Homo sapiens: one gene and its partner. The protein of the gene in region 1 purifies or fractionates together with the protein of each later gene. This does not show direct contact. Each region holds a gene or a part of one and is shown in the gene's direction. Other genes may lie near its edges.

Evidence for each region. The genes of interacting proteins can lie anywhere in the genome.
Region 2: the proteins of MGA (region 1) and USP33 purify together in Homo sapiens (co-immunoprecipitation; one large-scale study listed by IntAct). This does not show direct contact.

Annotation. Positions count from the first base shown.
Region 1 is NC_000015.10:41,665,931-41,671,145, forward strand, and holds part of MGA (MAX gene-associated protein), read left to right. Parts: intron 1-2,897; 5' UTR 2,898-2,964; coding exon 2,965-4,028; intron 4,029-5,215. UniProt on the Homo sapiens protein: Functions as a dual-specificity transcription factor, regulating the expression of both MAX-network and T-box family target genes. Functions as a repressor or an activator.
Region 2 is NC_000001.11:77,735,714-77,739,473, reverse strand, and holds part of USP33 (ubiquitin carboxyl-terminal hydrolase 33), read left to right. Parts: intron 1-56; coding exon 57-209; intron 210-3,315; coding exon 3,316-3,418; intron 3,419-3,760. UniProt on the Homo sapiens protein: Deubiquitinating enzyme involved in various processes such as centrosome duplication, cellular migration and beta-2 adrenergic receptor/ADRB2 recycling.

The DNA of each region.
Region 1 (5,215 bases):
AAAGAGACGGGGTCTCACTCTGTCTCCTAGGCTGGAGTGCAGTGATATGGTTATGGCTCACTGCAACCTGAACTTCCAGGGCTGCTGAAGGTGTCCTCCTGCCTCAGCCTCCTGGCCACCATACCTGCTATTTTTTTTTTTTTTTTGGTAGAGACTGACTGGCTATTTTGACCAGGCTGGTCTTGAACTCTTGACCTCAAACGTTACTCCCACATGGGCCTCCTAAAGTGATGGAATTACCGGTGTGAGCCACTGCACCTGCCCACCTGGCCTGTGTTTTAGTTTTTAAAGGTTGTGTGTTCACAAGACACAAAATTTACAAAGTGTAAAAGGGTATCTTTTCCAAGTCATCAAGTTTTCCTTGGATATGACCAATACTACTGTTTTCTTTTCTGTCTTTCCAGAGATAGTCTGTGTAAAGCAAATATGTACATGTTCTTTTTCATTCTTTGGCTTTTTATTTATTTTAAAGACCGAAATACTGTCTATTTCTTTGATTTTAAAAAGGAAAAATCTTTTACAAGGGTTGAAAAACTACCTATCAGGTACTATGTTCACTGCTTGGATGATGGGATCATTAGAAGCCCAAACCTTATATTATGCAGTAGACTCATGTAAACAAACCTGCACGTGTTCTCCCTGTCTGAAGTTTAAGAGGTACAATAAAAAACTTTTAAAAGATGTGTGGCATAATTTACAACTCTTCTGAACATTTTACGCTTAATATATCTTGTAGATACTTTTTGCATGCATTCATTAAGCTTATACATTCTCTTTTGTGACTGTTAACATTCCACTCTATGGATGTGTCATCATTTGTTTTACCATTTTAAGGACTTCTCTCTTCCTGTCTAGTCTTTTGCTGTTATAAGTGGGAATGCAGGGGATAATCTTGTATAGATATCATTTATCACAGGTGTGTGTATTTAAAATAAAGTCCTATAGTGGGTTTTAACAGTGAATTAAGAAAACTTAAAGTCCTGGGAACAATTCTTTGTCATAGGATGATATATGGATTTGTACTTTTGATATTTTCAAGTTGCCCTCTCTTAGAGATTCTATTATTTTATACTCCCAGTAACTGCTTAGGGGAGAATGCTGGTTGACCTAACCCTTTCCAGCACTACCAGGCTTTGATTTTTGCCAGTCTGATAAGTAAAAAAACAGTATCTCAAGATGACTTTAATTTGCTTTCCTCTTAACTATGTACATATTCATAGCCATTTGCGTTTATTATCCTTTACTCATTTTTCTGTTAGGTATTTGGTCTTGTTGATTTGTAGGAAGCCTTTAAAAATTATTATTACTGTTAATGTATTTTTATTTTTTTTTTTGAGTCAGAGTCTCGCTCTGTCACCCAGGCTGAAGTGCAGTGGTGCCATCTTGGCTCGCTGCAACTCCACCTCCTGGGTTCAAGCAATTCTCTTGTCTTAGCCTCCCGAGTACCTGGGATTATGGGCGCACACCACCATGCCTAGCTAATTTTTTTATTTTTAGTAGAGACAGGGTTTCACCATGTTGGCCAGGCTGGTCTTGAGCTCCTGACCTCAAGTGATCTGACCTCCTTGGCCTCCCAGAGTGCTTGGATTACAGGCGTGAGCCACTGCTCCCCCGCCGCTATTATTTTTTAATAGAGACGGACTTTCACTACGTTGGACAGGCTGGTCTGGGACTCCTGACTTCAAGCAATCCTCCTGCCTTGGCCTCCCAAAGTGCTGGGATTATAGGTGTGAGTCACCATGTCCAGCCCCCTTTTTATATTAGGGAAAGGAGTTCTTTATAAGTTGCAAATACCTTTTCCTGGTTAGTTTGCTTTTTGATTTTGCTTAAATGATTTTGCCAGATTAAAAAATTTACAGAATATTAAATTTTATTTTATTTTTATTTCTTTGAGACGGAGTCTTTCCCTGTCACCCAGGCTGGAGTGCAGTGGCGTGATCTTGGCTCAGTGCACCTTCTGCCTCCTAGGATCAAGTGATTCTCATGCCTCAGCCTCCTGAGTAGCTGGGACTACAGGCGTGCACCACCACACCAGGCTAATTTTTTAATTTTTAATAGAGATGGGGTTTCGCCATGTTGGCCAGGCTAGTCTCGAATTCCTGGCTTTAAATGATCCACTGGCCTCAGCCTCTCAAAGTGCTGGGATTGCAGGTGTGAGCCACCACACCTGGCATCATATAGTATTAAATTTATCACTTTTTTTTTTTTTGGCCTTACTGGTTTTAGATTTTGTGTCTTATCAAAAAACTTTTCTCAGGATTTAGGAATAAAAAAATTAAATATTAGAGTCATCTGGAATTTATTTCAGTGTAAGGTCCATTGAGTTCCAGTGATTTGTCATGGCTTCTTTAAACGTGTGTACTAAGAAGTTAGATAGCTTTTTACTTATTTATGGAACCATGTCTTCTGAACCATATGAAGAACTAATTCTGTACAATTAGCTCTTTGGGATGAAAATGGAACTTTACTTATTTAATTTACTCATCACTGGGGAACTTGCTATATAAAGGAATCTTCTGGTAAATTCATAAAGTGTTAGGATGCTTTAAAAATGCATAACCTTCAAATTTAACTTTTTAATTTTGTATACTTTTTTAATAATGAATATACTCTTTTGTTTCTTTGTGTGAGATTATAGTATTTATAGTGAATTGTTAGAGGATTAGGATATAAGCACCTTAACTAATTAGATTAAAATGAACTTTAAAAAATGATTAGATATTCCAGAGTAAATATTCTTACTGTGATTGAAAGAAAAGCTTAGAAGCAAAGTCTTAGAAGAATTTAGGAATATTTTGGGGATAACATAATCGTTCTTGTATTTTTGTTCAAGAAATAAATACTCACTTGATTAAAGGGTGTTTTTTGTTTTTGGTTTTTTTTTGCTTGTTTCTTAGGATGGGAAGGCCATTGTGACTATGTGGTGATTACAGTTGTCTTACTACTGAGTTTCCTACTGAAATCATGGAGGAGAAACAGCAGATTATATTGGCTAATCAAGATGGTGGAACAGTGGCAGGAGCAGCACCTACCTTCTTTGTCATCTTAAAGCAGCCAGGAAATGGCAAAACTGATCAAGGAATTTTGGTTACTAATCAGGATGCCTGTGCTTTGGCTAGTAGTGTGTCATCACCAGTAAAATCTAAAGGGAAGATTTGCCTTCCAGCTGATTGTACTGTGGGTGGAATCACTGTTACCCTCGATAACAATAGTATGTGGAATGAGTTCTATCATCGAAGCACAGAGATGATTCTGACCAAGCAAGGAAGACGCATGTTTCCTTACTGTCGTTATTGGATAACAGGTTTAGATTCAAATTTGAAGTATATTCTTGTCATGGATATATCTCCTGTGGATAACCATCGTTATAAGTGGAATGGTCGTTGGTGGGAACCTAGTGGGAAGGCTGAACCTCATGTTTTGGGGAGGGTTTTCATTCATCCAGAATCTCCTTCCACAGGTCATTATTGGATGCATCAACCAGTATCTTTCTATAAACTCAAACTTACCAACAATACACTGGACCAAGAAGGGCATATCATCTTGCACTCTATGCATCGTTACCTGCCGAGGCTTCATTTGGTGCCTGCAGAAAAGGCTGTGGAGGTGATACAATTAAATGGCCCTGGTGTCCACACTTTTACCTTCCCACAGACTGAATTCTTTGCAGTAACAGCTTATCAGAACATTCAGATTACTCAGCTGAAAATAGATTACAATCCATTTGCCAAAGGCTTTCGGGATGATGGGCTGAATAATAAGCCCCAGAGAGATGGAAAACAAAAGAACAGCTCTGACCAAGAAGGGAATAATATTTCCAGTTCTTCTGGTCATCGGGTCCGTCTTACAGAAGGTCAGGGGTCAGAGATACAACCAGGTGATTTGGATCCTTTGTCAAGGGGTCATGAAACATCAGGCAAGGGTTTGGAGAAGACTTCCCTTAATATAAAACGAGACTTTCTTGGTTTCATGGATACTGATTCAGCACTTAGTGAAGTTCCTCAATTGAAGCAAGAGATTTCTGAATGGTAAGTAGTAGTTTTTCTGTTCTTAGAAATAAAAGGAAGATTGAGATGGGCCAGGTGTTGGATTTAACATCTTGGTTCTGTGGAATGCTACAGATGTTGATAAATGTAAGCCACTATAAAATATACTACAACTGCTTTTACATTCTGTGAAGTGACATCATTTTTCTGTAATGAGAATCAGTTGGGTTCAGGATCTAGAATTGTAGGCAAATTGGATAACTTATCAGAATTATTCATATGTATTTAGAATGTTCCTTGATATCCTTGGGGGATTGGTTCCAGGACCACCCAAGAATACCAACACCTGACTACATTTGAGACTCCATCTCAATAAAAAAAAGAAAATCATACCAATTATGACAACATAGATGAGCCTAGAGAATACTATGCTAAGTGAAATAGGCAAAACAAAAAAAGACAAATACTGCAAAATATTCATAAAAGTAGAAAGTAGAATGGTGGATGCCAGGGGGTAGAGAGAGACTGAAAGATGTTGGTCAAAGGGTACAAAGCTTCAGTTATGCCAGGTAAATTTTAAAGAAAGAGTAAGCATACTATTTTTTTTGAGATGGAGTCTCGCTCTGTCGCCCAGGCTGGAGTGCAGTGGCATGATCTCCGCTCACTGCAAGCTCCGCCTCCTGGGTTCACGCCATTCTCCTGCCTCAGCCTCCCAAGTAGCTGGGACTACAGGCGCCCGTCACCACGCCCGGCTAATTTTTCTATATTTTTGGTAGAGACAGGGTTTCACTGTGTTAGCCAGGATGGTCTCGATCTCCTGACCTCATGATCTGCCCGCCTCGGCCTCCCAAGGTGCTGGGATTACAGGCGTGAGCCACCGTGCCCGGCCGTAAGCAATACTGTTTTAACAAGTAATAATTTTAAGCTTCTTCTTTGGTTGGGCAATTTATGGATTAGGATATCCCTCAGGCAGTAAATTCACAAATATTAGATACAAATAACGACTCTGAATCCATTTTGTGCCTTATATAGATAAGTTTTGTTTCCATTATGATTTGGCGTTATTTTTCTTCCCTTCTTCAATTATAGTAGGCCCACCACATCTACTGGTTCTGCATCCACAGTTATAGCTGGCCAACTAAGGGACTTGAGTATCCTCAGATTTTGGTATCTGGGGAGGGTCCTGGCACCAGTCCTCCTCAGATACAGAAAGTTGCCTGTAATCATGA
Region 2 (3,760 bases), on another chromosome or scaffold:
TTTTCAAGTATATGTAATTTTGGTTCCTCTTTTCCCTCTACTGTGAAATTATATAGGAGACAAAGCATTATCTAACTGTGAACCTTACCACTCTTCGAGTATGGTGTTATGCTTGCAGCAAAGAAGTATTTTTGGATAGGAAATTAGGAACTCAGCCTTCATTGCCTCATGTAAGACAACCTCACCAAATACAAGAAAACAGTGTCCAGGTAATAATCTAGATCCACTTAGTTAAGCTGTAAAACATTCCGGTAATAATTTCAGAATTTGTCATGTAGCTGAAATTTTCAAAAGGAATACTGCCTAACCTGTACTTTGAAAATTTCTGTAATGTGCCTTTTTTCTCTCAAATAAAGCACTCAGACTCCCCTTTCTTGTGTTGCTTAGAGTGCTAGATTAGGGTGAGATTGAAGCCCACCTGTTTGAAGATGGAAAAGGCCCTAATGAATTTTTGAAGTTTTTTTTTTTAAATGACTCAAGTAGTCTTTATCTTTTTCTGGTAAGTCTGATTTCAAGAAAGGTGGTGGGCCTTCTTTGATAGCATATGGCAGTTACTAATTCAGCTCTCTTCCCCGTTCTCTCCTCCCCTCCATCCCCTTTGTATTACTGTGAACATTTTACTTATTATTGACAACAAAGTAGAATATAATAAAGCTTAGCATCAGTCTTTGGGTTAAAGATTTTTCTCCCTTTGGGCTGGGTGCGGTGGCTCACGCCTGTAATCCCAGTGCTTTGGGAGGCCAAGGCGGCTGGATCACGAGGTCAGGAGATCGAGACCATCCTGGCTAACATGGTGACACCCCGTCTCTACTAAAAATACAAAACATTAGCCGGGTGTGGTGGCGGGCACCTGTATTCCCAGCTACTTTGGAGGCTGAGGCAGGAGAATGGCGTGAACCTGGGAGGCAGAGCTGGCAGTGAGCCGAGACCTTGCCACTGCACTCCAGCCTAGGTGACAGAGTGAGACTCCATCTAAAAAAAAAAAAGAAAAAAAGATTTTTCTCCTTTTGGATCAAGAGACTTAGAAAACACATGGGTTTGCTTGCAGAATTTATCACTTAATTTTCAGAATTCTTAAAGTCATAGAAAAATAGGAAAAAGGAAATTAACTTAGAATAGTTGGCTTCTTAATCAGATCATCAGTTGATCAGAATTTGATCAGATTTGATTAACAGCAAGTTTTTTTCCTCATGTGTGTTATAGAAATCACATATTTCTGTACTTGTTCATTGATACCAACTGTCAGGTTTTTCTGTTGTATGTTTGTATCACATTCTTATGGTAGATATTTGTGATAATAAATTTGCTTGCCTTACACATGAAAGATGGCTAGATTTTAGTCAAAGAATAATTTCTTGCATTTTCAGTTTCTCAGTTGAATGGCTCTAGTTAATTATAACCATTACTGTTTCTCCCACTTATACCTATTTATCATTCACAAACATGTTTAGTCTTTTTCAAAAGTCCAGATAGTATGAAAATGGCCGTTTCGTTGAATCCTCTTACATTATTAACAAAAGTTTGTCCCACTGAAGATAGCTGAATGGTAATAAGTAGAAAAAGTTTTAAAAAAGAAAAAAGTGTAATGTTATGACTAAAGTTTAATCACACAAGGAACTAATAATATATAAAGGCAAAACTATCAGCATCACTTACTAGAGAAGTAAGTTAAATAAGCTATCTGTTGCCATTTCTGCCAGAAAAGATCAAGATTACAAACTTTAATAAATGTTGAATCTGATAGAATAAGTATACTGATACTTTCCTGATGGCTTGTTAATAATTTTCTGATGACTTGTAAATATGTTAACACATAAAAGGCATAAACTTAATTTCATTCAACTTCCTTATGATCCCATTGTTGAAGAAATTATTCAGAAGAAAACAGTGGTTCAGATAGATTTCTTTAGTGGTCCAAAACTTATATGCTGTTGAAATCCAGTTTACCACAGGATATTTGCAAAATAGTAAAATATTGGAGGCCATGCAAATATTAATAAGATTTTTCAAATAGACATTTTTTCTAGATAGTAAAATTTCAGGTGATTTAAGCCTCTGTACTTCTGTGTATTTAGATATTTTGTAGTGAGCATGTATCTTTTTAAAAGCAATTACTTTATGAAAACAAAATGAAAGTATGAAGTCCACTCAAATGTCCAGTCTCTACAGATGTCAGGAAAGTAAAATCGTTGGGAATTAGTGCATATGCCTGCATTTTAGAGGTAAAGTAAGGCTATAATAACTTGGAGAACCAGAGTACATGCTAAATTCTTTCTGCTATTCAGTTTCCTTCTCTGTTTGGGTGTTGCTGAATGTTGGTTCATTGTAGTTCAATCTTCTGATATTACAAGAGAACTTTCAAATTTTGATTTTTATTTGTCGTCTCCGAATTTTTTAAACTTTAGCTCAAAGTTTTTTTCGTTTTTTTTTTTAAAGTGTTTACTAGCATTTGGCTAACAGGTTATCAGTTGCAACCTCTGAGTCAAGCCAATTGTTGGAAATTAATATTAGAATATTATTATTTAAAGTAAGTGCTTGAACTATTTAATATACGTAAAAGTGTGCAGGCCGGGTGTGGTGTCTCACACCTGTAATCCCAGCATTTTGGGAGGCCGAGGTGGGCGGATCATGAGGTCAAGAGATCAAGACCATTCAGGCCAACATGGTGAAACCCCTTCTCTACTAAAAATACAAAAATTAGCTGGGCGTTGTGGCATGCACCTATAGTCCCAGCTGCTTGGGAGTCTGAGGCAGGAGAAGCGTTTGAACCCAGGAGGTGGAGGTTGCAGTGAGCTGAGATCGTGCCACTGCACTCCAGCCTGGCAACAGAGTGAGACTCTGTTTCGGAAAAAAAAAAGTGTGCAAAGTAAATACAGTAATAAGTATCAGGAGAGATTGTAGAAGTCTATAGATAATGTGTTATGATGAAAAACTTTTGCCTTTTTCCCTGTTGAAAATGAGATCTGAGAAGACAGTGTAGGATAGTATCCTTCGGAGATCTTTTTAGCTATGGTTTACTGTCACATAATTGCAGTTATTGTGGAGTTTTAATTCAGAAAATTCGGTTGTAAAAAGTGCCTTTTTAACTCAAATATATATGTTAATAAAGCGGGACTGACATGCTATTACCCTAGGGTTTTATTTCCTTCAAAATATAAATGTAAGTTTAATTGCTAATACCACAAATTCTTATGGTTCCACTATTAAAATAACATCTCAATAATTTTTATGGTATAGATGTTATATAAGTTACAATTAAAACTTTTTTTAAATTTAAGGATTTGTTCAAGTGTGCTATCTTTTTTTGTTATCAAGGATTTTAAAATACCCAGTAATACAACATTAAAAACTCCTCTGGTTGCCGTATTTGATGATCTGGATATAGAAGCGGATGAAGAAGATGAACTTAGGGCCAGAGGTAAATTAATCCTGTGTAACGCTTCTTTGTATGGCACTGCCCATTTCTTTAGAAAACCATATAATGTAAAAGTTTCAAAATGTGGAGGTAAAATGGGCTTGATAATTAAAACAAAAGGACTCTGAAATTTGGCCTAGTAAAATTTTATTTGCAAAACAAACTTTTGGTTTCTCTGGTGTCAGTTTACCAAAGGTAGGATCCTACTTACTCTTTTGCAGTTGAGCCTTATGATCTTTTTGTTTAACTTGCCTTTTGAGGTCTGTTTGAACAGTGTTTCTCATTTTTCTATTGTCAGTGATGGGGAGGTATTAGGTATAAAGGTATTCCCTTAGCAGAAGTTCC